2 linked regions of the Homo sapiens genome follow. The protein of the gene in region 1 purifies or fractionates together with the protein of each later gene. This does not show direct contact. Each region holds a gene or a part of one and is shown in the gene's direction. Other genes may lie near its edges.

The links. The genes of interacting proteins can lie anywhere in the genome.
Region 2: the proteins of ARL5B (region 1) and VPS13C purify together in Homo sapiens (affinity purification with mass spectrometry; one large-scale study listed by BioGRID and IntAct). This does not show direct contact.

What each region holds. Positions count from the first base shown.
Region 1 is NC_000010.11:18,679,111-18,682,377, forward strand, and holds the end of ARL5B (ADP-ribosylation factor-like protein 5B), read left to right. Parts: 3' UTR 1-2,529; downstream 2,530-3,267.
Region 2 is NC_000015.10:61,920,948-61,924,447, reverse strand, and holds part of VPS13C (intermembrane lipid transfer protein VPS13C), read left to right. Parts: intron 1-1,685; coding exon 1,686-2,051; intron 2,052-2,414; coding exon 2,415-2,501; intron 2,502-3,500. UniProt on the Homo sapiens protein: Mediates the transfer of lipids between membranes at organelle contact sites. Necessary for proper mitochondrial function and maintenance of mitochondrial transmembrane potential.

The sequences.
Region 1 (3,267 bases):
TATCAGTAACTGCTATTCAACTTAAATTCAGCGAATTAATAGCTGAATAGAAATAGCTAATGACAATGCAAAAGAGAAAACAAGCCATATTGCTAAGAAAAGGATAGTAAGCTGCTTAGAAAGAACCAGCCTGTGTTGGAAATAATTCTCTTCTAGATAATTTACCTTATTTTCTTGGCTTGTACTAATTGAATGGAAGTGGTTAATTTGTTCAGAGTTTATTGCCGTTTGATGCCACCCCAGTCTATAGTTCTGTGTGACTTTCCATATTGAAAGAGTAGGGTTAGTAGCCAGGTTGTCAGTCTTTTACAAATGTCTACATAAATGTCTACATAAATCTGAAAGTGGTTTATATTCAAGGTTAGTTTTTCAGTAGCGTCTCCTCCTTATTCATTCACTTTTACTGTGAAGACTGAAATCCAAAAGCCAGGTTCCCCAAAAAAGTATTTTTAAAAAATTTTAGGGGACCAAAATAAATAGAGGAAGACCAATATAAAAAAATATGTTCAACTATTCCATTTTAAATTTAAAGCAGAAAAAAAAATTGTGCCCCTCAGACCTAAAGGCAGCTTTAAATGTATATAGTTTGGTGAAACATTTGGGAAATATTAATTTGGAGGTTTAGAAGCATACGAAAAACAAATTCAAAGCACTTGAAAGTAAAGACAATATCATGAGGTCGAAAAAACTTCAAAAGGATATTAGGTAAGAGAAAATGTGAATGAAAGCAGTGAATTTCTGCCTCTCCTCGTATTTAGGGTACTTAAAATTACTAAAAAATACTGTCTTTTTACCATACAGCTAGATGGCCTGTATTATTCTTAATGTGGCCAAAGGAGTGAAGACTGATTAGGGTTTTAGAATTTGGAACTGTAGTCACATAAAGGCATCTTTTGCATTTCTTAAACCAGTAATCTACATTTTCTCCTGGAAATGGAGAAATATGAAATGTGCTGTGCATAGCTTTTGGAATAGAAAACAAAGTTTTAAAAGAATGGATATGTTTTCTTGCACAACTTGTAAAATTTTAATTAAAAAATTACCTCATTTTTCAATCCATAAGGTGCTTTGCTCAAGTTTGTGGGATGTTTGTACCATCCCATAAAAACCCCCTTCACCCAAACTGTATTTGAAATATGCAAAATTCATAACTAAGGGATAGCATTCCTTGGAGACTTTGTTTTGTTTTACTCTTGTTTACCAGCTGGGCCAACATGGTAGATATATGAGATTCACATATGGTTTCATTAAAGCACATAGGAAAGTGCTCAGTCAATATTTAATTAGTTTAATTAGATAAGGGAAAGGAGAAATCCTAAATTTGATGGATTCTTTTATACTGTGAATATATTTCCATCAGTGTTGGTAAGATATCAAATGACTATCAGTTGATCCCAGTCATCAGTGACTTATTTGCATATTTAAGCCCTATTCACAAGAGACCATAATCATTTTAATCTTATATTTTCCCTCAGGAAATTTAGGGACTCTGAAGCCCCTATTTTATTCTCTTGGAGTAAACTGTTGAGTGTAGTTACAAAAACTTTTATTTATGACTTAAAAAAAGTTTAGCTGCTATTTCAGTGAAAGTGTAAAATAAAACGGTCATGATTTTTTTCAATTACAGAATAGTTACAAATTTTACCATGTTCATCTATTCCACAGAGCATGTTAAAAACAACAACAACAAAAACCTAACAGCAATTACAACCTTGGTGTTGCGTTTATTCTAATCAGAGTGAATGATTATAATCACACTTTGCTATTTTAACATAAATTGGTGCTTTAGAGCATTAAAGAGGAAGCAGCAGGCCCTGTACTCAGTATTTATTATTTCTTGCCTCAGAATGCAAAACAACTTTAAAGTGTCTATATTCATATATATGTGCATTTCTTAAGATTTAAATACAAACTGTTGTTACTCCTTAAGCTTCAGGCTTTCTGCGAAAGCTCTAAGAATATCTTCATTACTATGCTTGGTCAACTGGAAGATGGTATTAATAAGGTCAGAATTAGGAATTGGATTGCTCTGTGGGTCCTCCGGTATTGTGCAGAGGAAAGAAAAATGTCTTTCACACCACAAACTGTGTGTCTGAACCCCAGCCAAACAAATGTGTTCCATTGGTCCAATATATAAGCATTAACAACAACAACAAAAAATTTAAAACAAGTAAATTAATGCATTCACATGATCACTTCTTGAAAATGGTTCAAAGCATGTTTTCCTGATGGTGGGATTGTTTAAATGACATGTTTTAAAGTTTTTAATACTTTATTAGTTATGAAGTGCTTCTTTTATATGTTAAGTTTAGGTTGCCAGTACTCATAATTTTTATTTCTGCAATTATGTTATAATGAGTTGTTTGCATGCCTACTTAACCCAAGTAAAACGATGCTGTTTGCTCTGGAATGTTCATCTTTTAGACAGGTTTTGGCTCATTTCCAATCATGGTGCAATATAGTGTAACATTCATTTGTTTTCATTCAACAGTTTTATTTTTGTCATAATAAATAATTACTTTTCCAATACGAAGTGAATCCAGTGTTTTCTTTTAAAGGTAAATCTGCTTTAAGTTATTTGCTTGCAAATAATAGAAACCCACCTATGCCAACAAAGAGAGGATAATTGGGGTGAGGTGGTGGAGGCTCACAGAACCCACGGAACAACTGGATTTGTAGAACAGACTGAGACTAGAGACTGGACCATTTAGGAGCAAGCAGGAAGTTACCTTTTTTCCTGCTCATCTGTTTCTGTCTTTCACCTGACTGGATTTCTCTGTTTCCTGATCCACATAACAGATAATGTCCCAAGTCCAGTAGCCTCCTAAATTTGTACAAGGGAGAAGTCAGATTATTGTTAGACTTTCAATTACAATTCCATATTCCCCAGGGAAATTGTTCATTAGCCTGCATTGGGTCATTTCCTCTCTCTGATCTAAACAACTGGCCAAGTGGAAGGTGCATTTACCAGAGAAGGGGAATCCCTGGCCTGGGAAGGTGATCCGGATTGGTGTGTACTCCATTGTGGGGTATAATTGGGATCATCTACCAAAGTTGTGTCCTTGTAAAAAATAAAATAAAATTGAGATCTAATAATGAGTGGGATAACATTTTCACTATGTTCATTCTTCACATTCCTCTAAAGTGGTTTTAACTCCACCGTTTTTGCTCACAGACCTCTTTGGGAATGTGATAAAAGTTGCCTACGTAGAAAAATGACTCATAATTACAGAGTTAGGAATTTTGAGTAGAAGGTTAGGAATTTCA
Region 2 (3,500 bases), on another chromosome or scaffold:
CTGCTGTCAAAAAACTTAATGACATATGCGGGAGAAAGAAAGAAATCAGTGATTACAGCTTTCAGTGCTAGAGGCATGGCCAAGATGCAGTTGGGAGCACAGGCATGGGGCCTTTAATTCAGACCAGGACATCAGGGAAAGCTGTGTAGAAGCAGGACTATTTGATTTGAGTTTTGAAGGGAGATTAAATAGATGGGGAGCATGGAAAGGTTTATCCAGACAGAACTGATAATATGCACAAAGGCAGAGGTGTGAAAAAATCCTTTAAGATTTAGAGGGGTGGCCGGGCGCGGTGGCCTCACGCCTGTAATCCCAGCACTTTGGGAGGCCGAGGCGGGCGGATCACGAGGTCAGGAGATCGAGACCATCCCGGCTAAAACGGTGAAACCCCGTCTCTACTAAAAAATACAAAAAATTAGCCGGGCGTAGTGGCGGGCGCCTGTAGTCCCAGCTACTTGGGAGGCTGAGGCAGGAGAATGGCGTGAACCCGGGAGGCGGAGCTTGCAGTGAGCCGAGATCCCGCCACTGCACTCCAGCCTGGGCGACAGAGCGAGACTCCGTCTCAAAAAAAAAAAAAAAAAAAAAAGATTTAGAGGGGTGGTCACATATGGCTGGAGAGAATGGTGTGGTGGCGTTGTAAGACTGGAAGCATTAATTATAAGTGACATTAATAAGACACGGAAAAAAAGTTGACAAGTAAGTTAGGAAAACAATACATACTAGATCCTGCTTTTGATGATATAATTATATCCCTTTACATTTTAAGTAAGGATTGTGAGAAGTGAACAATAAAGGAATACAGTTAACTTATTTAACCTAGTATTTCTCAAACTTTGGGAGAATCCTGGCTAGCTGGTTGAATAGGCACTAGGCCACAAAGAGCTCTGCACATTAAGTTAAAGAGAGTTTCAATTTTATCTTGTGGGATAAAAAAATTATGGGAAGTTGATGAAGATTTTAAACATAAGAATGTCATACTCAGATTTGGTTTGTAGAAAAATTATGCTGGTGGCAGTGTGGAGTGTAGGCTGAGAGGGCGTTGGCCGTAGAAGATGTCATCAGTGTAGAACTAAGGCACAGTAATAGGAAGTGAGGGAAGTGAGCAAAGAAAGGCACTGTCCAAAGATAATAAGAGGTAGGATTTATAGATCTTGGGGTAAGTCAAAGGAGAGCTGTGATTTTGAGTCTTCCAGCTTTAATAAGGCAAATGTATATCTTTTTCTTCCTTTTTTTTTTTTTCAGAAGATCTTGTTGCATACCGATATTTATGTGTATCTTGACAAGGATCACACACTTTGGCTTAGTTAATGTAGCTGTTTTTAAAATGAAGAATTTGTTTACATTGCTATACTTGTCTATTCACATAACACTGTTTTGCTCTGAATTGATCAGCTTAACTTTAGATTTTGACTACTGACATATAACATTAGTTATTTAATTCCAGATAACCTGAGTAGAAGTCAGTGTTGCATGATTACTTGGCTTGACACATAATTTTGTGTTCTCTCTTGTTTTTCTTGGTTACGAATTTATTCAAAATTTAAATTAGTTACTTTAATTTAAAATTAAAATTTAATTTAAAAATGTCACTTATAATTAATGTATGTCACTTAAAATCATGTATGTATATATTCTCATCTGGGAAAGAATTTATTATAAATATTTTTCTGCTTTCTTTTTTAAAGATTTCACCCATAATTCTTAATACTGTGTTGACAATCATGGCTGCATTGTCTCCAAAAACAAAAGAAGATGGATCCAAAGATACGTCTAAGGAAATGGAAAATCTTTGGGGTATCAAATCGATTAATGATTATAACACTTGGTTTCTTGGTGTTGACACGGCAACAGAAATAACGGAAAGCTTCAAAGGCATTGAACATTCACTGATAGAGGAAAATTGTGGTGTTGTTGTAGAATCCATTCAAGTTACCTTAGAATGTGGCCTTGGACATCGAACTGTACCTTTATTATTGGCAGAGTCTAAGTTTTCAGGAAATATTAAAAATTGGACTTCTCTAATGGCTGCTGTTGCTGACGTGACACTACAGGTATGGCCACATCACTTAATACCTTCAGAGACTTCTTGAAAGTGCGATTTTGGAATTAAGATATACACTTTTCTTGTTTGTGCATGGCCACTATGAGTACATATGTGAATAGATAGTGTGTTCTGACATTTAATTTGTCGATGTATTGTTTTTTGATAATTATTTTTTAAAGATTGATTTGCTAAATAATTTATGACAATAGAGTAAGAGAGTAAAGGAAAATACACTCTATATATTGTTAGATGGGTTTTGAAAATGGCTAATGATATATAACATTGATTACTTAATAATTTCCCTATTGGTTACAGAAATATGTAATTAAAGCCAAAGGACTGTCTTATAATTTTGTGTGTATCTTTCCAGGTGCACTATTACAATGAGATCCATGCTGTCTGGGAGCCACTGATTGAGAGAGTGGAGGGGAAGAGACAATGGAATTTAAGGCTTGATGTAAGGAAATCTTAAAATATCTTTGGATAGAATGATACTATGCATATTCATTCATAGTTTTTATTTCAGTGATTCTTAAGATGTGGTCTAGGATCCTTGAAGCCCTTTTAAGGGCTCTGTCCATGAGGTCAGAACTCTTTTCATATGTCATTTTCATTCTCATTCTCTCACGAGTGTATAGTGGAGTTTTCCAGAGACTAATGAAGGTGATACTGCAACAGATTGAATGCAGAACAGAAACGAGAATTTATCTGTCTTCCCTTAAGGCAGGCAGTAAAGAGATATATGTGTATGTTCCTCTTCTCACTGTATTTTTAAAATAGTTATTTTTGATTAAAAATGTTATTTATATTAGCATGTAATTTTTATTTTTAAATGAATTTTTAATTTTTTTTCAGTTTTAATTGTTAATAGAGTACATATTGGTAGATAAAACATAAATGAAGCTCTTTAGTATACTCAGTGATTTTTAAGGGTGAGACCAGAATATTTGAGAATTGTTAATGAACTCTTGTGTGTTATCTTTTTATGTTGTTTTTTGAGAACACCTCAGAAACCTAGATACTGAAGCACATTTTTCTTGATTAAAAGGAACTTGAGTCATATATTGTTAAGAAATTGTCGTAGCATACTTCTTTGGGGCAGCCTTACTAAGGAGTCAGGCACTGAAACTGACTCCACATATTCTTTTGTTAAAGATGAGTCACTTAACCTGTGTTCCAATTTCCTCTCAATAAAGAAGTAATATTTTTCTGACCTGCCTTTCTCTGGCATAGGGAGGCTAACAAAGAATGTTTTACAAGGCTTTTGAAATACTACTAGAACAGAAGCTGATGGAATCTGATGGCTAGTTAAGTGTTTATTATATTAATATTACTTATTTGAAGGTGTTATTGGTTTAAAAAATAGAAGGAGAGAAACATTTCCAGGTGGCACCTCTAATAGGGATCAGTTTAGACTTCAGGGTCCTCTTAGATTGCTCGTCAACACATAATCACC